7 linked regions of the Homo sapiens genome follow. The protein of the gene in region 6 purifies or fractionates together with the protein of the main gene of each other region. This does not show direct contact. Each region holds a gene or a part of one and is shown on either strand. Other genes may lie near its edges. The genes, in order: HABP4, ZC3H13, NEMF, C12orf43, ARGLU1, TCEAL7 and WBP11.

Region 1 (3,500 bases), on a different chromosome or scaffold from region 6:
AGAATGGCGTGAACCCGGGAGGCGGTGCTTGCAGTGAGCCGAGATGGCGCCGCTGTACTCCAGCCTGGGCAACAGAGCAAGACTCCATCTCAAAAAAAAAAAAAAAAAAAAAATATATATATATATATATATATATATATATATATATATATATCCATTAACTTGAATAAATGTCATAGCTATACAACTAATGTGGAGAGTAATTTGTACCAAGAAAAATTGAAGCCACTATAGTAAATATTGCACATAGTGAGAGGAGATCTTTTAAATGTATATAAAAAAAGATAGACTTTTTTTGAAGATTAAAGATGTGACAAAGTTCTCCACAATGTATTTACCAAGTATTAGATGGCTTCAAACATAGACTTTGCTTAAGATGTTTAAAGCATTAAAACTAAAGGGGAGTAAAGCAAGGTGACAGGACAGAGGAAAAGACCAGAGTCTCGGCCGGGCACGGTGGCTCACGCCTGTAATCCTGGCACTTTGGGAGGCTGAGGAGACCAGCCTGACCAGGTTAGAGAAACGTCGTCTCTACTGAAAATACAACATTAGCCAGGCGTGGTGGCGCAGGCCTGTGATCCCAGCTAATCTCTACCCGGGAGGCGGAGGTTGCAGTGAGCCGAGATCGGGCCATTGCACTCCAGCCTGGGCAACAAGAGTGAAACTCAGTCTCAAAAAAAAAACACAAGAACAAAACCAGAGTCTGTGGTCCCAGCACAGTGTCCAAGTGCTGGACTGAGTGGACAAAAAGAGATGCCCTCAAGTACTGGCTGACTCTTGGGCAAGTTGCCAAATAGCAGTGTTTGGTTCATATTCAGGAAGTTATAACTGCAAGTCTATATATCTCATAGAATAGCAGGAAAATCTGTTTTCAAAGTAAAAATATAAGCACTACAAACTTTAAAAACAAAAACCTTGGCCAGGCGCTGAGGCTCATGCCTGTAATCCCAGTGCTTCAGGAGGGTGAGGTGGGTGAATTGCTTGAAGCTGGGAGTTCGAGACCAGCCTGGCCAACATGGTGAAACCCTGTCTCTATTAAAAATACAAAAATTAGCTGGGCATGGTGGCACATGCCTGTAATTCCAGCATCTTGGGAGGCTGAGGCATGAGAATTGCTTGAGCCTGGGAGGCGGAGATTGCAGTGAGCCAAGATTAAACAGTGCACTGCACTTCGGGCTGGGTGACAGAGCAAGACTCTGTCTCAAAATAAGTAATTAAGTAAATAAATTAAAAAAATACAAAATAAAAACAAAAACCTTAGTAGCCAGTGATAAGCCATAGTTGCTATGTAATGTGCAGTTGGGATTCTAAAAGTACAGTCTGAAATATAGGGTATTCTTTCATTTTCTAGGTACGGCTTACACACTGTGTTTTTGTAAGACTGCTTTTGTGAACTGTAGCTTATTTAGTAAAATGTACCCATGGCTGTCACAGTTATTGGGAGATGCCTGTAATTATAGGTGAGCTTAGTTGGTCATATACTTTCTAGGATATAGGGAAAGCATGATTTAATAGTAACATCCTATTAAAAAGTAGACTGTGGGCAGTTGTAGTATCAGCAACTTTTTTCTTTGAAGTTTTCTAAACTTCCTGAATTCTCCTATGACGTTGATTTCTAGAAAAATGAAATTTACAAGTACCTGTAAAGTTTAATAGTGTGCTGTTGCAGATGTTGTGTTCCAGCTCTCTGCTTTGATTTTCTGTTGGTAGGCCAGAAGCGGACTCCTAGAAGAGGGGAGCAGCAAGGATGGAATGACAGCCGTGGGCCGGAGGGGATGCTCGAAAGAGCTGAGCGGAGATCCTACAGGGAATACCGACCCTATGAGACAGAGAGGCAGGCAGACTTCACAGCTGAGAAGTTTCCAGATGAAAAGTATGTGCTGCAGTCCTCAGCAGGGCGGGTGGGGAACCAGAAAGGTTTTGAGAAAATGCTACTTTCTTTTTCTTTTCTTTCTTTCTTTTTTTTTTTTTTTTGAGACAGTTTCGCTCTTGTCGCCCAGGCTGGAGTGCAATGGTGCGATCTCGGCTCACTGCAACCTCCGCTCCCGGGTTCAAGCAATTCTCCTGCCTCAGCCTCCCAAGTAGCTGGGATTACAGGCATGTGCCACCACGCCCGGCTAATTTTGTATTTTTAGTAGAGACGGGGTTTCTCCATGTTGGTCAGGCTAGTCTTGAACTCCCAACCTCAGGTGATCCACCTGCCTTGGCCTGCCAAAAGTGCTGGGATTACAGGAGTGAGCCACCATGCCCGGCCCAGAAAATACAACTTTCTACTGGCTACTGCTTTTTGTGGTACCAGTCCTAGGAATGTTTTACTAATTTATGTGCAATTCATGTTACCTTAGATGATGGGAAGGATCTTCCTTTTTCCTCATAGATGCCTTTACGTCTTGGTTCAGGAAATGATTGTACAATTAAAAATGAATTGCTTGTTGGTAACTGAAGAGCACTCTTAAAAAGAAATTACACAGGAGTGTGTTGAACTGGTTTTCTTTTGAAGTTCTAGATTAGAGATATAATTTTGGACTAGGGATATAATTATGGTTTTTGATTTCACATTACCAATTTAGACTGCTCAATGGATTGAAATAAATTCCTAGCTCCACGGTCAGGTCAGTAGGCTGCCATGATGAAATTTGAAGAAGAGTCTGTTATGATGTGTAATACCAATTTCTGGAGGGCATGGCTGCTCTCCGAAGTACTCTAACATGGACAGAAGTCGTGGGCTGGTGGAGTGTTGCGTCGCTGCTTAGTGATGTGGCAGCATGGTGGCCACCGCACTCCACCTCAACACGGGGAGGGGTTGTGTCTTATGTTTGGCACTTGCTGCTTAAAGTCTTTGTTTAATCATTAAACCTGTTTATGTTAAACAGAAACAAGTAGTGAATCACATTTCAAGGAAAATAAAGTTAAACAAGCTAAGGAAGACTAGAATAGTGAACAGTTATATGTCAAGGGAGCCATTTTTCCAAACTCTTTCTGCTTCTTGACTGCTAATTCCATTCCATTTAGGATTCTGGCTACAAGTTTTAACCAAAAAATGTGGCTTTGTAAAACTATACTATAGAGCCTATTAAAAACAAAACAAAACAAAAGTCCAGCAGAGAGTAACTTAGCCTGGGTGGGCTGAGCAGGTGATGACTCATGCAGAACTGTTCACCTGGAAGTTACACATTCAAGACATTGAGATAGTCTATCTGCAACCATGTTGGAGGGAGAAACTTACAGAAAGCCTTAATTTTGCACCTTTTTTGGTGATTACTTCAAATCTGCTGTGTAGTAAGCACAGTCTCCTTGTTTCTGCAAAGCTTCTTGTAGCAGAGCTGCTTATTTTTGGAAGCATTTGGGTATTTATTTTCCCCTCACTTTAGGGATTCTGTGGAAATGAGGAAATTATAGTTCACTTGCACAAACCCATGTTTCCCCCCTTTTTTAGTAGCAAGACTGTGTAGTCTTTAAAAAGGATAAAATAGATCTTTATATGTGACATGAAAAAATAG
Region 2 (3,500 bases), on a different chromosome or scaffold from region 6:
AGAAGATAGAGGAGAAGGGGTACTACCAGGAGTCGTGGCGGTGGCAGTATGCTCTGCTTCTGTCACCTCTGTACGGTCAGGGACATCCTCATCAGACCAGTCACTGAATGCTGTATCTTCTTTTTTCTGGGAGTCCTCTAGAATACCATTCTTACCATTGCACATTTCAACCAATTCCTCTTTAGTTGTTATAGGGGGAGTCCGTGGGCCTCTTTTCTTCTTACTTTGCTGGGCTGCTTCTTCATCAGAAATATCAGAATCACCTTTGGATTTTTTACGTTTTTTTTCAATGCTTTTCTTTTTCTGTCCTTTTTTTGGTGAAAATACTTGACCATCTTCAGATGTTGTCTCTATGTTACCCCTCTCTATTCCAACATCATCCTCTTTCTTTTTCTTAATTGGTTTCTTTTGAATTTTTGCTTTCTTCTTGTTTTCATCATGAGCTCGATCAGATGTCTCTCGATCTTCAGACTGGTGGTGTCCTATAATGTCCTGTGCACGCATTCTTGAGCTTTCCAGGATTTCTGTCTGTTCTCTCTGTTTATCTACAGAAGAAACTTTCTCCTTGAGTTCCTGTTCTTCGTAGCGCCTTGAACTCTCTTTCCTTTCTGGTTTACGATCCTCCTCTTTCCATCTACCCTGTCTGTCTTCTGTGAGGTGCGAGGGACTAAGAGAACGAGATTCTTGAGGTCGTACAACTTGGCTCAAGAGTCTGTGTTTTTCATCTATATAAAAGATAAAAGCAATCACACTCTCACCAGGTTAGTAACCACTGCATGGTACATATAGATTATAATAATTTCTCCTCACACCTGTAATCCCAGGACTTTGGGAGGCCGAGGCAGGTGGATCATGAGATCAAGAGATCAAGATCATTTAAAAACTTTTAAAATGACAATAATTTTAGTAAAAATAAAAATATGGCTTTACTATAAATAGTAGAAAATGACAGTACTCTAACACATACTTTAGTCACAAAAGGAGATATTTAGAGGCAGCAAAGCAAGACAACTTTTTAAAAATCTTAATTCATCAGTTCCTACTAGTATGAAAGGATGGTTTCATGGTTACAAATGAATATGAATATAGAGAGACAGAAAACAGAGTCTGCTTACTTTTATCATCTCCACTGTTGTAGGCATCACTGTCCGGAGAATGTTCACGCCGGCGCTTCGGGGACTGTCTAGGGCTGGGACTCCCTTCATTTCTATAGCGCTTCCTAAATTGGACAAGCAAACACAATTTATAAAATTCTAGGGGGCAAAAAAAGAGATTTTTTTGTTTTTACTAGTATCTCTTTACTATAACTGGAACATATAATTGTAGGAAAGCAATATTGCCAGAGTGTATCATACAAAGGATATTCAGTGTCTTTAATACAAATTCTTTACTTCATTTGCTAAGAATTGTGAACTTAAAATACACAACATTTCTTCTTCTTCTTCATTATACATGTAGAATAACTCAAGTGAAAATTGCCAGATTTAAATACTGTAAGGTGGTAACATGCAGCACAGAAACCAATATATTAATGTACCCTCTGATATAAACATTCAGCAATTTTGCATTCTTATGATATAAAAATGCCTTATGCTGCAGAGCTGAATGAGAAAACCTAATATTGGCTTTGAAGTAAAAAAGCTATGAGTTCAACTTATAACTACATTAGTTATTACGCAGCCTTAAGTAAGTTCCTTGAAGTCACTGAACCTTAGTTTCTCATCTGAAAATGGTGGGTGGGGCTGAATGGGTGGGAAATGAGAGTCCATTTCATAAAATTGCAGTAAGGAATAAATTAGTTATGTCATAAACCCAGTGCCAAATATGTTGTGGGTACACCATAAAATTAGTTCCTTTCCCCTTCATGGAAATCACTTTCTTGCTGACAAATTAATAAAATAATTCATACGTTCATTATATTTTTTGTTCCTTAGTTGAGCTTTAAATGAGTAGCGTTTTATATCTCTTGGGTACTTAAATTATTCTAGTGTTTTCCCCCATTTTCATTAAAATTTGACTACCTGTTTTTTCACTAACATTGTTTGTTTATAAATACTATGGTCAAAAGTTAAGAAACATATTGTATACATGGACCAATGGAACAGAATAGAAAACCCAGAAATAAAGCCAAATGATCTTCAGCAAAAGCATACAAAACATAACTGGGGAAAGGACACTCTATTTACTAAATGGTGGTGGGAAAATTGGCAAGTCACATGTAAAAGAATGAAACCGGATCCCTCTCAGCTCAAACAAAAATCAGCTCAAGAAGGATCAAAGACTTAAATCTAAAACCTGAAACCATTAAAATTCTAGAAATTAACACTGGGAAAACTCTTTTGGACACTGGCCTAGGCAAAGACTTCATGGCCAAGATTCTAAAAGCAAACGCAACGAAACCAAAAATAAATAAATGGAACCTAATTAAACTAAAAAGCTTCTGCACAGCAAAATAAATAACAAAGACAACCCATAGAATGGGAGAAAATGTTTGCAAACTATGTATCCAACAAAGGACTAGTATCCAGAATCTATAAGAAACTCAAATAAATCAGCAAGAAAAACATAAATAATCCCATCAAAAAGTGGATAAAGGACACGAATAGACATTTCTCAAAAGAAGACATACAAACAGCCAACAAACGTATGAAAAAATGCTCAAAATCACTAATCATCAGGGAAATACAAATTAAAAACCACAATGAGATGCCACCTTACTCCTACAAAAATGGCCATTAAAAAGTAAAAAAAACAGGAGATGTTAGCATAGACATGGTGAAAAGGGAATGCTTATTCACTGCTGGTGGGTATGTAAATAAGTACAACCTCTATGAAAAACAGTATGGAGAGTCCCTAAAGAACTAAAAGGAGATATTTGATCCAGCAATCCCACTACTGGGTATCTACCCAAAGGAAAAGAAGTCATTATATGAAAAAAAAAAACATGCACATATATGTTTATAGCAGCAAAATTCACAACTGTAAAGATATAGAACCAACCTAAGTGCCCATTGGCCAATGGGTGGATAAAGAAAATGTGGTATATATACACCATGAAACCATGGACTACTACTCAGCCATAAAAAGGAAAAAAATAATGTCTTTTGCAGCAACTTGTTCTCACCTGTAAGTGAGAGCTAAGCTATGAGTATGCAAAGGCATACAGAGTGATATAATGGGCTTTGGAGACTCAGAAGGGGGAGGGTGGAAGGGGAGTGAGGGATAAAAACGTACATGTTTGGTACAATGTGGACTACTCAGGTGACAGGTGCACTAAAATCTCTGAATTCATCCAGGTAACCAAAAACCTCTTGTACCCTAAAAGCTATTGAAATAAAAATAAAACAAAAACATACCAGCACATGTATATCATAGACAGCTCCTTTATATAGATGAACAACCATGTGGAGAAGGCCCCAGGTGTAATATGACAACTCACAGGCCCAAGCTTGTGTACTACTTTATCCAAAGCTCCTCTCCCATCAATAACTGGCCTATTT
Region 3 (2,603 bases), on a different chromosome or scaffold from region 6:
TTATAGCTGACATTTTTATTTTTATATGTTCGGAACAGGAAGAGCAAGATCTGGATCAACAGGGAAATGAGGTATGATTTTATGTTGGGGTTCCTACTACAACACTGTGATTACAATTCAGTTCCCAGAATGTTTGAAACACAACTTATTAAAACTTAGAAACCTAAGACAAGACTGCAGGCTACGAAGTCAAACTTTCGGGGTCTTAATCCCAACTCTGCTATATGTAACTGTACAAACTTGGAAACATTCTTTGTGCCTCAGTTTCCTCATCTGAAGAATGGGGATAATGTCCCTACCCAGGAGAGGGTTGTTTTGATAACTAATGTATGTAAAGGGCATTTAGAAAAGTTTATGGCACATAGCAAACACTCAAATATTAATTATACTTCAGCACCAAGCATTCTGTCCTAAATCTAAGTTTATTCATATTGTAAAATAAATGGGGGCAATCTCACAGGCAGCACAGCAAATAAGAACTCTGGGATTTCTCCTTAATAATGGGTAAGAGAGAAGGCTGTTCTAGCCCAGGGTTTCTCAACTTTGGCACTATTAACATTAGGGGTTGGTTAATTCTTTGTTGTGGGGTCTGTCCCATTCATTATAAAATGTTTAGCGACATCCTCGGCCTTTACCCACTAGATCCCAGTAGCAGCCCCTACCTATTCCTTCTCACCCCTCATCGTGTCAACGAAAACTATCTCTAGACATTGCCCATTGTCTTCTGAGGGCAGAATCTCCCCAGGACGAGAAATAGTGGTATAGCCAAGGTATTAGTCCCATTTCCATGTGATAGGACTTAAATCTATTTGTGGTTATTATTGCATCATTTTAATCCACAGCAGGTTTCTGCAACTCAGGTAATATCCAATAGTTTTTTTCCTTTTTTTTTTTTTTTTGAGACAGGGTCTCTGTCACCCAGGCTGGTGTCACCCAGTGCAGTGACAGGATCATGGCTCTCCACAACGTCTACCTCCTGGGCTCAGGTGATCCTCCCCCCCTCAGTCTTCCGAGTAGCTGGGACTACAGGCACCCACTATACCCAGCTAACTTTTATATTTTTTGTAGAGATGGTGTTTCTCCATGTTGCTTAGGCTGGTCTTGAACTCCTGGGCTCAAGCGATCCACCCGCCTCAGCCTGAGCCTTCCAGAGTCCTAGGATTATAGGCGTGAACCACTGCTCCTGGGCCTTCTTTCTCTTAAATGTAACTGTAGGTAGGATTTTGAAAATTATTGTTCTCATTACTTATTATGCTAGGCAAAAATTAAGTAGTAAAGAATATATTTAAACATTGGTCTTCAACTCTTTGGAACTATGAAGCAGAGTTTAAGTACCACTGTTCCAGCTTAGATGGTATGTATATCAGGAAAAGATAAAAAATATGTTGAGATACTAATTCAAGTGTTTTAGCATTTTTTGTAAAGGGCGGTATAAATTGCCTTTGTAACTGTTATTTTCCCTTTTTAGGAAAACCTATTTGATTCTTTGACAGGCCAGCCACATCCTGAAGATGTACTACTGTTTGCCATTCCAATATGTGCCCCTTACACCACCATGACAAACTACAAGTAAGTTACCATTAGTTGACAGAATGGCTTTTGTGAATTGTTTTGTAACGTCTATTTAGTAACACATGTAATTCCTTTTTAAAGATATAAAGTGAAACTTACTCCTGGAGTGCAGAAAAAGGGAAAAGGTATTTAAATTTGTTTTTTTGAATTATGATTTTAAACAGTTCAGTGACTTAACAGTAGATTATTCTTACTCTTTTTTGTATTTACAGCTGCAAAAACAGCCTTGAATAGTTTCATGCATTCCAAAGAAGCAACAGCAAGAGAAAAAGACTTATTCCGCAGCGTAAAGGTAAAGTTCTCCTTCAGAAAAGGAATGTGGAGACTGACAGTACAATTTAAAATGTTAGCAGTTTTTTGTTATTTTAGTAGAAAATGCTGTCTTATTAGAAGCAGTAAAACCATCTCAGCTAAAAGTTTGGAAATGTTTTTCGTTTTTGTCATAAAAGAAACATGATTGACCATACAGGATGTGAAGATATTCAGCAATTTTCTTTTTTTAGGACACAGATTTATCAAGAAACATTCCTGGCAAAGTGAAAGTGTCTGCACCCAATCTTCTGAACGTAAAAAGGAAATAGCTGAAATGAAATTCTAAAATATTTGAGAAGAGCCAATTTTATAGCCTTTTGGAAGTTCAAAGATGAAAGCACCATGTATCAGGATTTCCGCATTATAAAAATGAACTAAACATTGCCTTGCTATATTCACCAAAAGGACTTACTTCTTGTTTTTTCCCAGTTTTATATAGAGGAAACACTGTCTATGATAGGATTTCCAAAAGTATTTGTGGACAGTTAAATGCTAATTAATATACATCTGTAGTTATTCTACATTTTCTTGAAATTTGGGAGGTTAATACCAAGTATTCATTTCATGATGTAAAGAAACTGAACAGTGAAGTGGCTTGATTGCTTAAACTATTGACTTGGTAAGTCTACTGTATATAACATCTAATATATATATTACAGGCCAAATGAACTAAACATTGCCTTGCTATATTCACCAAAAGGACTTAATTCTTGTTTTTT
Region 4 (3,500 bases), on a different chromosome or scaffold from region 6:
CAACCATGAGAGTAAGAGAGGAACATCGAGAAGCTCATTCCCGCCACAAGAGGGCAAGGAAGGACCGTGTTCCTATTTCTTGGGTGCCTTCTGTATGCTAGACACTGTGCCAGGTCTCTATCTTACATTCTCAGCACAGGTTGATAACCCAGTCGGTAAGGATTCAGGTTGGCATTCCTAAAGTAGGTGTCAAGGATACAACCTGTTTGAGTCCATATGGGCTGCTATAACAAAATAACATAAACTGGGTAGCTTATAAACAAAATAAATGTATTTCTCACATTTTGGAGGCTGAGAAGTCCAAGATCAAGGCACCAGCAGATTCAGTGTCTGGGGAGAGCCCTCTTCCCAGTACAGATGGCGCCTTCCTACTGTGTCCTCACATAGTGGCATGGGCGAGGGGTCTCTCTCAGACCTTTTTTATAGGAGCAGCAATTTCATTCATCAAGGCTCCACCCTCCCGACCTAATCACCTCTCAAAGGCCCCCATCTCCTAATCCTAATACCTTGGGTTGAGGATTTCTCTTTTTCTTTTCTCTTTTTGGAGACAGAGTCTCCCTCTGGAGCACAGTGGCGTGATCTCGGCTCACAACAACCTCCAGTTCCTGGGTTCAAGCGATTTTCATGCCTCAGCCTCCTGAGTAGCTGGGGTTACAGGTGCGCACCCACCACGCTTGGCTAATTTTTTGTATTTTTTGTATTTTCAGTAGAAATGGGTTTTCATTATGTTGGCCAGGCTGGTCTCGAACTCCTGACTTCAAGTGATCCACCGGCTCGGCCTCCCAGAGTGCTGGGATTGCAGGTGTAAGGCACCATGCCCAGCTGGGGTGAGGATTTCACCATAAGAATTTGGGGAGGACACAAACATTTGGATTCTAGCACTAGCCCAAAGCGTGGCTTTAGAAAAAAGGAGGTCCAACAGCAAAGAAGCGTGAGAAACACTGCAATCTACATACCTCCACGTGTCCTTGCAGACTGCAAGCCAGAGTAGTATATTCAAGGCTCTGAGAATTCCTGTAGTGAAGAGACCTGTGTAACTGTTTAGCCCAGCATTTTCCAAACTTGTTTGGCCACAGTGCCTTTGTTTCATGGAAAACCAGTCAACAACCTGCGGAACAGGTCTGGGGATACACTGGTCTAGATCTGTTCCTGACTGGCAGAGCCCTGGCAGGGTTTTGAAAGGGAGATGAGGCAGGATTTGGGGCCATTGTCATTCCATTCAAAGTAGATATCAAAAAGGACAAATGAGCCTTCCCAAAGTGTGAACCAGCTATTCTTCTGAGACAGAATGATGGGCCAGAGCCCCGCAGCCTGAATCCCACAGGGTTCCCCTCAATTGGAGAAAGTAGAGGAGGTGTTTAGGAAGGCAGCTGCATTTCAGCCTGTGGGAGCAGTTTTCCTTTGTGACTCTCTGGCTTCAGGCTGAACAGGGCCTGCTTGGCATTGCACTGAGTCACAGAGATGTTTCTGCAGTAGAAATGCCAGTCAGCCATGGTTAGAATATTCCCTGCAGCATTTTCATGTTTCTCCAAAGAAATCTAAATGATACCTTAGGCCAGGCGTGGCAGCTCATGCCTCTGATCCCAGCACTTTGGGAGGCTGAAGCGGGTGGATCATTTGAGGACAGGAGTTCGAGACCAGCCTGGCCAACATGGTGAGACCCCATCTCTACTAAAAATGCAAAAATTAGCTGGGCATGGTGGCGTGCACCTGTTATCCCAGCTACTTGGGAGGCTGAGGTAGGAGAATCGTTTGAACCCAGGATGCAGAGGTTGCAGTGAGCTGAGATCGTGCCACTGCACTCCAGCCTGGGTGACAGAGTGAGATCCCATCTCAAAAAAAAAAAAGGAAATGTAAATGATACTGCATTTGGTCCCTAGTGTTAGGTCAGTGTCTCTCAACCTTGGCGCTACTGACATCTTTGACTAGCATTTGTCGTGGGGGTCTATCCTTCTTCTTCCCATTATAGGATGTTTACCAACATCCCTGGCCTCTACCTACTAGATGATAGTAGCACTCACCCCACCAGTTGTGACATCCAAAAATGTCTCCAGACATTGCCAAATGCCCCTGATGGCCACCATTGAACCACTGTGTGGGGTCAAGAACAGGTGCCTGGGTGGCATCATCTCTACTCCCTCTCCCCGGGTTGCTTTTCCTGAACAGGGCTTGGGGGGCACCTTTGGCATACAGGAAGGGAGGTTAGGGAAAGCACCCAGGGCATTGCTGCGTCTGCCTCGAGGGCATTGCTGAGAGCCTTGTTCTCTGCTGTGCACAGTGGCATCTCCATCTGCACTCACCAGACACATGCTTCCTGGCCTTGTGCCTCTAGAGAAATGTGGTTTATTTTTATGTTAGAGAGCCTGTGAAGGCTGAAGCTTTTCTTGATGACAGTCATCATCTGCATCGTCATCATAGCTACCATTTGCTGAGCAGCTACTTGTGGCTAGGCCGTGTGCCACAAGTGCTTGATATCCATTTTCCCCTTCAATCCTTGTGACAACCTTAAGAGGTAGGGACCTTCATCGTTCCCACTGCACAGGTGGATAACAGAGACTCAGAGAGATAAAGTCATTTGCTTAAGGGACATAGCTAATAAGTGACAAAACCGGGATTCAAAACCCAGGTCTCTGAAGTCTGAATGAGGTCCATGAATTGGATCAATTTGCATTTCCTAGTTGTGATGTTGTACTATAGCGAGGCACAATGTTACCATTGCGAGAAAATGGATGGAGGGTCTATGGAACATCTGCATTATTTGTTGCTACTGCATGTCTACAATTATCTCCAATTTCTTTTAATTAAAAAAAAAAATTTAAAAACAGGTCTGCCCTGCTCCAGAAGCTGTCCTCTGAACCAGTTTTCTAGATTGGTCATATTTCCCTTTTCATGCTTGCTGCTAGGAAGCTCAGAGCAAAATGTATGCCCTCTCTCTAACAAGTGTATAGGACTTCCTGACTACACTTCTAGGTCTTTCTGTTCCTCTTGCCCTTATATCTCTTTGTCCTATTTGAAATTGCATTCATTTTGTTAAATTCTTTTCTTTTTTTGGAGATGGAGTCTTGCTCTGTCACCCAGGCTGGAGTGCAGTGGCGCAGTCTCAGTTCACTGCAAGCTCCGCCTCCCAGGTTCACGCCATTCTCCTGCCTCAGCCTCCCGAGTAGCTGGGACTACAGGCGCCCGCCACCATGCCCGGCTAATTTTTTGTATTTTTAGTAGAGATGGGGTTTCACCGTGTTAGCCAGAATGGTCTCGATCTCCTGGCCTCATGATCTGCCTGCCTTGGCCTCCCAAAGTGCTAGGATTACAGGCGTGAGCCACCATGCCTGGCCTCATCTTGTTTTACTATGTCTTTAAAACTTCTTCAACACTTACTGGAATAAAGTGGGCTTTAAAGAAATGAAGCACTGCAGTTCGCGTGGCAGAGGCTGGTCAGCATGTTATAACCAGACCATCAGCCCTCTTACTAGGCCAGCACGCTTTCGCTTTTGCATTTACAA
Region 5 (3,500 bases), on a different chromosome or scaffold from region 6:
ACAGTTTTTCTAACAGTGAACACCTTTTGCCATCTGAGTAGCCTGAGATATTCCCAACATCCAGTGCTGGTGGTTCTTTCTATACTTATCAGTTCATTCTTCAATTTAGCTTTTCTTGCCACTTTACTATAAACAGGAAGAAACCAGGCTGCAACTTCAACACTTACTTAGAATTCTCAGCTAAATATGAAAAAGTTTTAAGTTCTGCCTTATATACAACTGTAGGACACAATTCAGCCAAGCTTTCTATCACTTATAGAAAGGATCTCTTTCCCTCCAGTTTATATGTTCCTAATTTGCTTCTGAGCCCTAACCAGAAGCACCTTTAAAATCCATATTTTTGCCAACAGTCTTTAAAGGCAACATATGCATTTTCTATCATGTGACTCAAAACTGGAGCCTCTACCCACTGTCCAATTCCAAAACCACTTCCACATTTTTAGGTAACATATTACCACAAACTAAACAGCTCAAAATAAATTTATTCTGGAGGCCAGGAGTCTGAAATCAGTATCACTGGGCTGAAAGCAAGGTGTCAGAAGGGTGTCCATTCTCCTTCTGGAGTCTTTAGCGGAGAGTCTGCTCCTTGTCTCTTACAGCTTCTGGTGGCTGCGAGGATTCCTTGGCTTCAGCCTACATCACTTCAATCTTCAACGCCAACATTTCCAAATCTCTCTCCTCTGTCTTTACTTAGCTTCCTTCTCCTGTCTGTGCTATATGCTAAAATTTCCCTCTGCCTCTCTAAGAAAACATGTGATGGCATTTAAGGCCCACCAGATAATCCAGAATAAACTCCCCATTGCAAGATACTTAATCACATCTGCAAAAGCCCCGCCCTCCTTGTCATATATGGGCACATTCAAATTCCAGGCACTAGAATACAGATTGTTTTTCATGGAGAGAGGACAGAAGGGATTTTTCAGCCTATCATACAAACTCATTTAAAAGAAAGCCATCTCGCAAAGCAAACTCTGGTTTATTTCAAACTTATGTATGTGGTACACATTTGATATATAAGCAACTTTCAAACATGGCATATCTTTTCTTCTCTCAAACTGCTGAGATAACAAACTGGTGAGATACAAAGTGGTATAACACGATGAACTTGGCAAGGGGTGAGAAGAAAACTATTTCATTAGTAAAGAGATCTGTAAATCTAGAATTTATAACTTGCATATACTTTAAAACCCCAAACACCCCCATCTCCCATCAAAAGTAATTTGTCCTTCCTTTGACCAGTATGTTACCTAAAATTTTATTAGAAATTATCAATCTATCAATCTATTATTATAGTTTAGGCGTTTACACCAGATTCACTAGCCAGGTTGTACGGTTTGTATTTTACAATCTTGACAAGGGTATAGATTGAGAGTTTCTTCCTTCTGCTGACACAACCTTCTGGAAGAGTATTTTATTCTATAGCAAAATCTATCCCCAATTTTTAAGTCTGTTTCCCTCTCCAAAAAAGTAAAATTCATATACATTTCAGAACAGTATCTGAGATTTTCCCAGGCACATCATAAAAACACCATGAAGACTTCAAAAAATTTTAAGCATTATTTTTAACAAAAGAAAATTAAAATTTTCCATTGTATTAACCCTTCAAATACCTAAAGATAGTTATGTGTCGCCAACACTAACTCAAGAACAAAGAACAATCTGCCAAAAAGCCAAGTCAAGTCATATTTGGATGCTTTTACTTTGTAAATAAAGTATGTTTGTTGGTTAATACTTTTGTCTCTGTTGACAAACCAAATATCTTGGTACACAATGTGGAACTGAAAAAAACAGTAACTACCCATGGATTAGAGCACTTAATGATTTTCACATATGGATGAGCTCGTGTGGCTAGGCTAACACATTCCTTATTAGTCATTACGGGATTCAATCTGTGAACTTGTGTCACAAAAGGCTACTTAAAAGTCAAAAGTATGACTTTAACTTCTTTACTAGTATTTCTATGTGATAAAAAAAAGTGATATACATTACTTGTAGCATGTAGAAACTGAAGAAAAGTATAAAGTTACACGTAAGACTACCAATTAAGGATAACTATTTTTAGCATTTTGGCTTATTTTTCTGTCTCTTAAAATGTGCAAGTATATGTTTCTCAAAATAAAAGGATCATATTGGATATATAAATTTTGTATTTAGCTACCTCCTATTTTGTATTTCCCCTGAATTATCAAATACTTTTTGGCTACAGAAAAACCCACTGTGTAATAATAATGAATCCAACAACTTGGACATTTCTATTTTAAATAATTTGAGAGTATCTTTGTACATAAATTCATTTGTAAATGATTCTATCTCATGAGATAAATTCTTAGACACAGAATTAAAGTTTTTTATATTTACTGATTTACTGTTAATTGTCTTTGGAAACTGTTATACCCATTTAAATTCTCATGATCATCAGGTAAAGAGGTATCTGTATAATAACCCGCCAACACAGGACACTATGAAAAACAATGGCTTTAGGGGATTTCTATTAAGGAAAAAGAAAAGAGGGGGACATTTCTTTGTTTCTCTGAGGTTGAGATATATTTTCAGAAATGTATTGTAGTTGCTTCTTGTCCTACTTGTGTACAAATATCCTTTTTAATTAGGAAGTTAGTCTTCTTTACTGATCTGTAACATCATTGTATTATTTTTTCAGTTAAAATGTTTAAGAAATCTCCCTCCCCACTTCCAAGGTACTTTCATTATCAACTTGTCTTTTCTATAATCCACTTTCCACACAAACTTCTTAGCATACATAAAGTTGGATGGCTGCTACTTTACTATAGCTCCTTCTTCCAATATCCCAAGTTTCCACACCCTAGCCTTTGTTTTATTCTACTACCCCAAAGGCCTTTGCCCTGTTTCATTTCCTCACACTCTTGTCTACCTCCTAATAGAATTTCCACCTACCCATCAGGGCCCAGCTCAAGGGACTACCTCTTCTAGGAAGGTTTCCGAGGCCACCCAGGGCAACTATGTCATTATCTTACATTACCTATACCACTTACCAAATATTTCCATGGTATTAGTAACTTTTTTTGGAGTTGTCTTTGTTTCCAAAATATGTTAAATTATTTTAAAGCACTTAATGGCTTGTCTACTTTTCCATCCAGTTGTTTTTCTCAATATAGATTTTAGCAAACAGTTACCTTTGATCACCCTTCATCATTCATCACTTTCTAGAGGCCAGAATGCTTCTCATTCTTCTTGCTTTATATGGTATCAAGTACTTTTAATAGGAGTTTGAATGTATTTTACATATTTCCCAATAAACATACATAAAGATTAAAGAATAGTGCTCAAAATTGAGAGGAAGGGGAAGGAAAAAGGCAATAAAAGTGGAAGTGGGCCTCAACGTGTACCGTGCCATCTTTATACATTTTTTGTCTCCTCCTACACAAAGAATACCCTACTTTTCCTGCCAGCATATGACTACCAACAGAACCAAATAAAAAACTTTTCTTGGCCGGGCGCGGTAGCTCACGCCTGTAATCCCA
Region 6 (3,885 bases):
TTCTGACCACTGAACTTTTTTCTGGAGTCATTTATATCAAACTGATTAGTGGTAACTTTATATTCATAATGAGCTGCAATCTTCCTAAAAACAACTTATGAGAAGTTTACACATCTCCCTTTCTATTGCATATATTTCAAGCTAACAAATCAAGAGCAAATCTACTTAGACAAGTACCCAAATCCTTAGCAACAAAAAGTTTAGTGTGTTGGGTGGCTAAATGTGACTAATTTTTGTTAGTACTACAAGTAGCTTTCAATACATCAGTATGGCTAAATAAGGTCATGGAAAACATAAATAGGATGGAGATGTCTAGGGAAAATGAAAAACTATTCTTTTCTGAATGAGAGTGTTGAAAAAAGTTGGGATATTAGGGGTACAGTATTGAAGAAAAAAGGGTTATGTGTATGGTATAAACTGGAAGAAAGAGGGCATGATACTGAGCTCAAACTAGTTAAAATTTGTGACTTACAGTTGCGATCTGGAAATCTAAGGGCAAGGTGCTGTAGGATTATGGTCTCAGTGACTCACCTAATGGAAGGACCTCACATGCCCGGGAGCCCCTCAAAAGAGTAGGTTCCAACTGACCTGTACATCTTAAACTTCAAAAAATATGTCTGCCTAAAGGGTCTATATTTATATTATGACTTCAGCAGCAGAAACAGGTGGCTGGCCTTTTTATCCTCCTATCTGGAATCTTTTTCCAAATGTACATATCTTTATCATATTTCTGATTATTAAAAGTATATAATAAGTTTATGGAAAAATTGGAAAAGAATAAGAAATTATCAAAACAAAAGTAAGAAGCACAATCCAAATCATTACCTCCTTTCCTAATTCACCCCATTCCCTCCAATCTGGTTTCAAGGATTGGACTCCAAGGGAAATGATGGCTATTAGTGGCTGAGAGGCGATTGGATGGAGGAGACTGCCACTTTTCTTTTCTTGTAGCTTAGAAAAGGATAAGTAATCCTCCCTCTCAGCACAACCACAAAAAAAGTAACAATGGTTAATATAACTTTGGGAAAATGCAGCCCCTCCCTGGTAATCAGAGAAAGGCAAATTCTGACCACAGGGAGAAGGCGCCACTTTTGACCTCTGGAATTAGCAAAGACAAAAATGAGTGACAGGGCCTGGTGTGGTGTGGGGTGGGAGGTTGGTAAGCCGGTCCACTTCTGCAGCGCTGCTGGTGGGAGGGGAAAGTGGGGACCAGAGATGGGGGATGACATAATCCTCACGTGATCAGGAGCTGACGTGAACCGAAGTCCTTATATTCCCGGGCTTCTTTCTCCTCTGGGTACCAGCTCCTTACTGCCCTGCAGACAAGCGTGCCGTGCGTGCTTGTGGCCAAGGGAAGGAAGAGGTAAATTCCTTAAATCCCAGCAGGTTGGAGTGAAGGAACCACTGGACCCCCGGGGTCAGTAGTGGGTGAATCTAATGACTGGAATAGGTCCAGACTTGCTTTCCCAAAACCGCTGCAAAATCGTCGGAGATAATTGTATCTTTTGCAGGGGGAAGCAAGGGGGTAGGTCGAAATCTTTTGAGAGACACCTAGAGATTTAGTGACAGCTTTGAAATAATCGGCTTCTCTCACCCTGGCATGCTTTCTTTTTATCCTTCTCCTCATCTTTCTCCAATTTTGTTAAGAGAAAATTTTAGGCCTGGGGTATGTGTTGGTGTGTGGAGAAAGGCTGAAATCCCGGGATGGAGACAACAGAAATTTAGAGATCATTTGAAAATAGTTCACCTCACTCAATGCCGGCCTGTGGTGGTGGGGTGGGGCGCGGGACGGGGCGAAGGAGGGAGACGCGGGCCTTGCAAGGCCCAGGCCTGAGGGTGAGGAGTGGGGAGTGGAAACGGAAATCCTGAAGGAAAGGATACAGACAGGAAGGAGGGGCCAGGAGGTAGAAATCCGGGGGGCGATGACGGTGATGATGAGAATCCCAGGTTCAAAATAATAACGTCTGTCTTGTCTCTGGAGCTGGTTGATCCACAGATAGCTCCTTCCTCCCCGCCCCTTCCTTTTTGTTTGGAGGTCCCAGGATCTGTGTTCACAGACATCTGGGGGAAGAAAAGGAGCAGGAAACTACCCCGCACAGGTCAGTATGAGAGAGGCACTTAGACTGAGATCTCTGAGGATAGGAGTCGGGAAGGGGCAAAAGCTAGGCGAAATTTGCGGCTTCGCAGTCCATCTCCTTTTCTGCTCCGCCTCTCCTGCCTATTGGAGAGGCCATTAGCTTTGTCTGCTGGGGAAACGGTGGGTTCCTGAGGTGGGAGGGGAGAAAAGGGGGAGATGAGAGGGTGGAGGGAACTGCCGCAGACTTATGAGGTCTGGACCTGTGGGGCAGAGATGGGAAAGTATCTTGCCTCAGAGAGAAACTGACAATCGTGATTCAAAAGTAATGAAGCAATTTGTCTTTACATTTTCTCCCTAGAGTTAAGCAGGAAACAACAACAACATCATGCAAAAACCCTGCAAAGAAAACGAAGGAAAGCCAAAGTGCAGCGTGCCAAAGAGGGAGGAAAAACGCCCGTATGGAGAATTTGAACGCCAGCAAACAGAAGGGAATTTTAGACAGAGGCTGCTTCAGTCTCTCGAAGAATTTAAAGAGGACATAGACTATAGGCATTTTAAAGATGAAGAAATGACAAGGGAGGGAGATGAGATGGAAAGGTGTTTGGAAGAGATAAGGGGTCTGAGAAAGAAATTTAGGGCTCTGCATTCTAACCATAGGCATTCTCGGGACCGTCCTTATCCCATTTAATTAATTTCTCTGACAATTCAATTATTTTCTGTTATTAATGTTGCCACTGCTTTCTGTTTGTCTGCACTTTCTTGATAAATATTTGCTATCGTTTTACTCCAGTCATTCGATGTTGCTGAGATTTACATATGACTCTTGTCAACATCTCATCTTTTGACCCAATCTTATTCATTTAATAAGAGGTCTCATTCATTTGCATGGAAAAATGCTCATTGTATATTGCAAAGTGAAAATAACGAGTTGCAAAACAGTGTATACATATATGTGTGTATATATGTACACTTTATTTGTACATTTCTATGTGACATAATGCAAAGGAAAGTGTCTGATTTTATTATACACCAAAGGTTAACAGTGAATCTCTGTGTGATCTCTTTTTTTTTCTTTTTGCCTATCTGCATCTTCTCACTTGCCAAAAAATGAATATATGTTTATGTGTGTATATTACTTGTGTCACAAAAAACCCTAAAGTAGACAGTAAAAGAACTTGTCAATCGCCTTTGGAAGGCAATGAAACACTTAATAAACTCTCAATAACAGAAGCGTAAAAATGAAATGTAAACCTCCAATTACCTCTGGATCTCTTAGCCAGAGTAATAAACTGGTAATTATTACAGATACACACGTTTAAGACTCAGTCTTTTCATAGGGAAAATATTTGCCTCACAGGGCTGCTGTGGGAAGGAAATGAGGCAGTAACCAGCTGTGCTCAGTGGGATCTTGTTCCCCACTGTGCATACAGAATCCCAACCCACTATAGAATACACCAATAACTTCAGAGAGGGCCTGGCATGATTCAACTTGTACTCCGGAACAAGTCCAGTAGGCAGAGGTGGGGGCTTCCCTATCAGTCCTCTGTTATTGAGCCCTGTCTCCTCCCCTGGGTCCTGCCACACCTGCCCAACACTGCTGCCTCTTCTGCTGGGCCCTGTGCTCTCTGCTGGCCCCACTGCTGCTGATGCACTGCAGTCATTCAGGGCCAAAACCCAACCGAATTCCCTGGAGTCGTCAGTGGGTTGAACTCTGACTCTTGTCGTCTAAAGCTTCCTGTGCTTTATAGTGACATTTAACACAGGTGGGACTTCTCTAGGGTTGCTTGGGCCACAATGTCTTTCAGAGC
Region 7 (3,500 bases), on a different chromosome or scaffold from region 6:
AAAGTATAAAAAGATTATTTATGAAATGAAGCAACAGAGAACTTTTCAGCTATTTGTGATTTTAGTCCTTCATCCTATTGTCAGCCTACTAAGTTTTCTTCAGTTGAGCTAATCATTTTCCGATTGGTGCAAAGCAAAGTTACCTATTTTATGTCATTCTTAGTGGTCTTTGTCTATATATTCATGAGTTTCAAGGGGTCCTTAAAGCATTGTGTTTTATATTCCATTTTCAGCTTATACTGGAACCATTTAAGAATTCTTATCACCTTTGTATATTTCCAACATTGCGGAGCTGTGATTGAATATGCTTTTTGTCAGTGTTGGGAAATAAAGTGAAAAGATCCACAACAAATCCAGTACCATTTTTCTGGTGCTCAGATATATTTTTTTTTTTAAGACGGAGTCTTGTTCTGTCACCCAGGCTGGAGTGCAATGGCGCAATCTCAGCTCACTACAAGCTCCGCCTCCCGGGTTCACACCATTCTCCTGCCTCAGCCTCCCAAGTAGCGGGGATTACAGGTGTCTGCCACCATGCCCGGCTAATTTTTATGTATTTTTAGTAGAGATGGGGTTTCACCATCTTGGCCAGGATGGTCTTGAACTCCTGACCTTGTGATCCACCCACTTCAGCCTCCCAAAGTGCTGGGATTACAGGCATGAGCCACCATGCCCGGCTGTACTCAGATATTTATTGAATGAATTCTGTTTCCATGTATGTTTCATTAACTTCTTGAAGTTAATCTGATTTCAGGTTAAAGTCAAACCATATTTGAGTTACTTTTAAGCCATAATTATTACTTAGTGTACATTTGTGTGACATTAATTTATCATTTTTCTCTTTTCAGGAGCTCCTCCATTCCTGAGACCACCTGGAATGCCAGGACTCCGAGGGCCCTTACCCCGACTTTTACCTCCAGGACCACCACCAGGCCGACCCCCTGGCCCTCCCCCAGGTCCACCTCCAGGTCTGCCTCCTGGTCCCCCTCCTCGTGGACCCCCACCAAGGCTACCTCCCCCTGCACCTCCAGGTGATGCTTTCAATTTCTATAATAAAAACTTAGCCTGCTGTTTATTTAATTTGCTCTAAGACATATGGTCACATTTCAGTATTCTGAAATCTGAGGTCATCTTACAGTCAGTGGTGGTTTTTAAGTTGCCGTTGACCTGGCTTGAAGTACAGTTCTTCCAGTGGGTATTTGCACTTGGTTCACTTGAGGAACTTGTAGCCAGAGAACATGGGATTAAATTCTCTATTTGATAATTTTTTGGTTTTAGTTGTAGTTACGAAGCCGTTTCATGCATCTGCATGAGTACCAACTTAAAGTTTAAAATTAGAGTGTTTTTTTCCCTTACCTCTACCTAATGTCAAGGTTAGACATGCAGATTTTCTTGTGGGCTTGTTTTATGTGGTAGGTATATTTCTAGTTTACAACACTGAAATGTCCCAGTTTCATGTGAATATCTGCTTTTCAGTGCCCCAGCTGGGGCTTTTTTTCCTCTCTCTCTCTCAGTGGTACACAGAATAATTATGAGTTTGTAATCAATAGGATCTTAGATTTGATAAAATGTACTTAATATTTCATTTAAAAGTGGTATTTGAAGAACTGAAATCTGCAGTTCTTGGTATATGAATATTGTGTATGTCTGAACTGTCCATAGGACATGAGTTCTTTTCCAGTAATGATGACAGATTGTGATTAGTTGCATTCTCTTACTCCATGTGCATTGTTTTTTTCTTTGAGACGGAGTTTCATTCTTCTTGCCCAGGCTGGAGTGCAATGGCGCGATCTGAGCTCACTGCAACCTCCGCCTCCTGGGTTCAAGCAATTCTCCTGCCTCAGCCTCCCAAGTAGCTGGGATTACAGGCGTGCACCACCACGCCCAGCTAATTTTGTATTTTTAGTAGAGACAGGGTTTCATCATGTTGGTCATCAGGCTGGTCTCGAGCTCCTGACCTCAAATGATCCACCCGCCTCAGCCTCCCAAAGTGCTGGGATTACAAGTGTGAGCCACCATGCTCGGCCTCCGTATGCATTTGATGACCAGGGTTAAAATTTTATTTCCTGCCCATTGACCTTTTTGTGCAGGGGAAATGGTATGGAATATAATGCATGGGGATCAGTCTCCTGACCTTGTCCTTACTAATACCTGCACTATGCAGCTGGAATAGAACCTTGGGATGTGAGATTTGAGATAGTAATTTGAAACCAGTTGATGTCCCTTTATATTTTAAAGTAGGATGTTATTTAGAGAAGAAGAGAACATAATACTGTAAGTACAGGAATATAGGCTGAAGGTAAATACTGTTTTATAATAAAATATTCCTGAGTTTCAAATAGCAACCAATATGAATTCAGCTTATTTTCTGTAAGTTGTTATCCATTTATTTAAAAATTGGCAACCAATATTTAAATGTCCTTAATAGTAGTTAAATTTTATTAGTTCTTACAGTATTCATCTTGCCTATTTTATTCATTTAGGTATTCCTCCACCTCGTCCTGGCATGATGCGCCCACCTTTGGTGCCTCCCCTTGGACCTGCCCCCCCTGGGCTGTTCCCACCAGCTCCCTTGCCAAACCCTGGGGTTTTAAGTGCCCCACCCAACTTGATTCAGCGACCCAAGGCGGATGATACAAGTGCAGCCACCATTGAGAAGAAAGCCACAGCAACCATCAGTGCCAAGCCACAGATCACTAATCCCAAGGCAGAGATTACTCGATTTGTGCCCACTGCACTGAGAGTACGTCGGGAGAATAAAGGGGCTACTGCTGCTCCCCAAAGAAAGTCAGAGGATGATTCTGCTGTGCCTCTTGCCAAAGCAGCACCCAAATCTGGTCCTTCTGTTCCTGTCTCAGTACAAACTAAGGATGATGTCTATGAGGCTTTCATGAAAGAGATGGAAGGGCTACTGTGACAGCTTTTGATGCCAGAAAAGGCTTCTGTTCACAACAGTGGCCCATGGAGAAAGAGGCTCTTATTAAACTTAGATGAAAGAGCTGCTTCCATTGTCAGGGTATTTTCTAATTTCAGTTCAAGGAATATCCTAAAATTTAGCCTTGTTCAGAATTTACTGCACATAAAAAAGGGTATTTCATCCAGAATAGATCAGTTATTGAAGCAGTGCTGCTAACATCCATTCCCTTTCATACCACCATTTTCACCCTGTTTCTTCCCCTCCTCCAGTTCTTTGGAAATTTGTGATCGGGGGATCTTAGTTGCTTATTTGTTTTGACTCTTGTGTGCTGTGGGCACTGGAGTAGAGATTTCTGGAGAAAAAAAAACAGTTTATTTCATCTTGCCTTTTGTGTTTGAGTTATTTTTAATATTTTCCTGTAAATATTTTGTAATATTTTACTTGTAATGAAATGGATCACAATGTCATTTCCTAATACAAGGCAGGATATGTGGGAAGAATATGTACAATTATTTGATTAAAATTATTTCCCACTGACCTAAACTTTCAGTGATTTGTGGGAAAAATAAATAAATGTTCTACACCA

Evidence for each region.
Region 1: the proteins of TCEAL7 (region 6) and HABP4 purify together in Homo sapiens (affinity purification with mass spectrometry; one large-scale study listed by BioGRID and IntAct). This does not show direct contact.
Region 2: the proteins of TCEAL7 (region 6) and ZC3H13 purify together in Homo sapiens (affinity purification with mass spectrometry; one large-scale study listed by BioGRID and IntAct). This does not show direct contact.
Region 3: the proteins of TCEAL7 (region 6) and NEMF purify together in Homo sapiens (affinity purification with mass spectrometry; one large-scale study listed by BioGRID and IntAct). This does not show direct contact.
Region 4: the proteins of TCEAL7 (region 6) and C12orf43 purify together in Homo sapiens (affinity purification with mass spectrometry; one large-scale study listed by BioGRID and IntAct). This does not show direct contact.
Region 5: the proteins of TCEAL7 (region 6) and ARGLU1 purify together in Homo sapiens (affinity purification with mass spectrometry; one large-scale study listed by BioGRID and IntAct). This does not show direct contact.
Region 7: the proteins of TCEAL7 (region 6) and WBP11 purify together in Homo sapiens (affinity purification with mass spectrometry; one large-scale study listed by BioGRID and IntAct). This does not show direct contact.

What each region holds. Positions count from the first base shown.
Region 1 is NC_000009.12:96,456,669-96,460,168, forward strand, and holds part of HABP4 (intracellular hyaluronan-binding protein 4), read left to right. Parts: intron 1-1,710; coding exon 1,711-1,873; intron 1,874-3,500. UniProt on the Homo sapiens protein: Ribosome-binding protein that promotes ribosome hibernation, a process during which ribosomes are stabilized in an inactive state and preserved from proteasomal degradation.
Region 2 is NC_000013.11:45,969,247-45,972,746, forward strand, and holds part of ZC3H13 (zinc finger CCCH domain-containing protein 13), read right to left. Parts: intron 1,220-3,500; coding exon 1,116-1,219; intron 726-1,115; coding exon 1-725. UniProt on the Homo sapiens protein: Associated component of the WMM complex, a complex that mediates N6-methyladenosine (m6A) methylation of RNAs, a modification that plays a role in the efficiency of mRNA splicing and RNA processing.
Region 3 is NC_000014.9:49,784,186-49,786,788, reverse strand, and holds part of NEMF (ribosome quality control complex subunit NEMF), read left to right. Parts: intron 1-6; coding exon of another isoform or gene 7-38; coding exon 39-71; intron 72-403; exon of another isoform or gene 404-1,199; coding exon of another isoform or gene 1,200-1,209; exon of another isoform or gene 1,210-1,468; coding exon 1,469-1,569; exon of another isoform or gene 1,570-1,653; coding exon 1,654-1,697; exon of another isoform or gene 1,698-1,784; coding exon 1,785-1,864; exon of another isoform or gene 1,865-2,075; coding exon 2,076-2,153; 3' UTR 2,154-2,603. UniProt on the Homo sapiens protein: Key component of the ribosome quality control complex (RQC), a ribosome-associated complex that mediates the extraction of incompletely synthesized nascent chains from stalled ribosomes as well as their ubiquitin-mediated proteasomal degradation.
Region 4 is NC_000012.12:121,006,488-121,009,987, reverse strand, and holds part of C12orf43 (protein CUSTOS), read left to right. Parts: intron 1-3,500. UniProt on the Homo sapiens protein: Plays a role in the regulation of Wnt signaling pathway during early development.
Region 5 is NC_000013.11:106,551,138-106,554,637, forward strand, and holds part of ARGLU1 (arginine and glutamate-rich protein 1), read right to left. Parts: intron 1-3,500. UniProt on the Homo sapiens protein: Dual function regulator of gene expression; regulator of transcription and modulator of alternative splicing. General coactivator of nuclear receptor-induced gene expression, including genes activated by the glucocorticoid receptor NR3C1.
Region 6 is NC_000023.11:103,328,942-103,332,826, forward strand, and holds TCEAL7 (transcription elongation factor A protein-like 7), read left to right. Parts: upstream 1-1,297; 5' UTR 1,298-1,363; intron 1,364-1,981; 5' UTR 1,982-2,099; intron 2,100-2,435; 5' UTR 2,436-2,462; coding exon 2,463-2,765; 3' UTR 2,766-3,385; downstream 3,386-3,885. UniProt on the Homo sapiens protein: Plays a role in the negative regulation of NF-kappa-B signaling at the basal level by modulating transcriptional activity of NF-kappa-B on its target gene promoters.
Region 7 is NC_000012.12:14,786,479-14,789,978, reverse strand, and holds part of WBP11 (WW domain-binding protein 11), read left to right. Parts: intron 1-845; coding exon 846-1,028; intron 1,029-2,480; coding exon 2,481-2,914; 3' UTR 2,915-3,500. UniProt on the Homo sapiens protein: Activates pre-mRNA splicing. May inhibit PP1 phosphatase activity.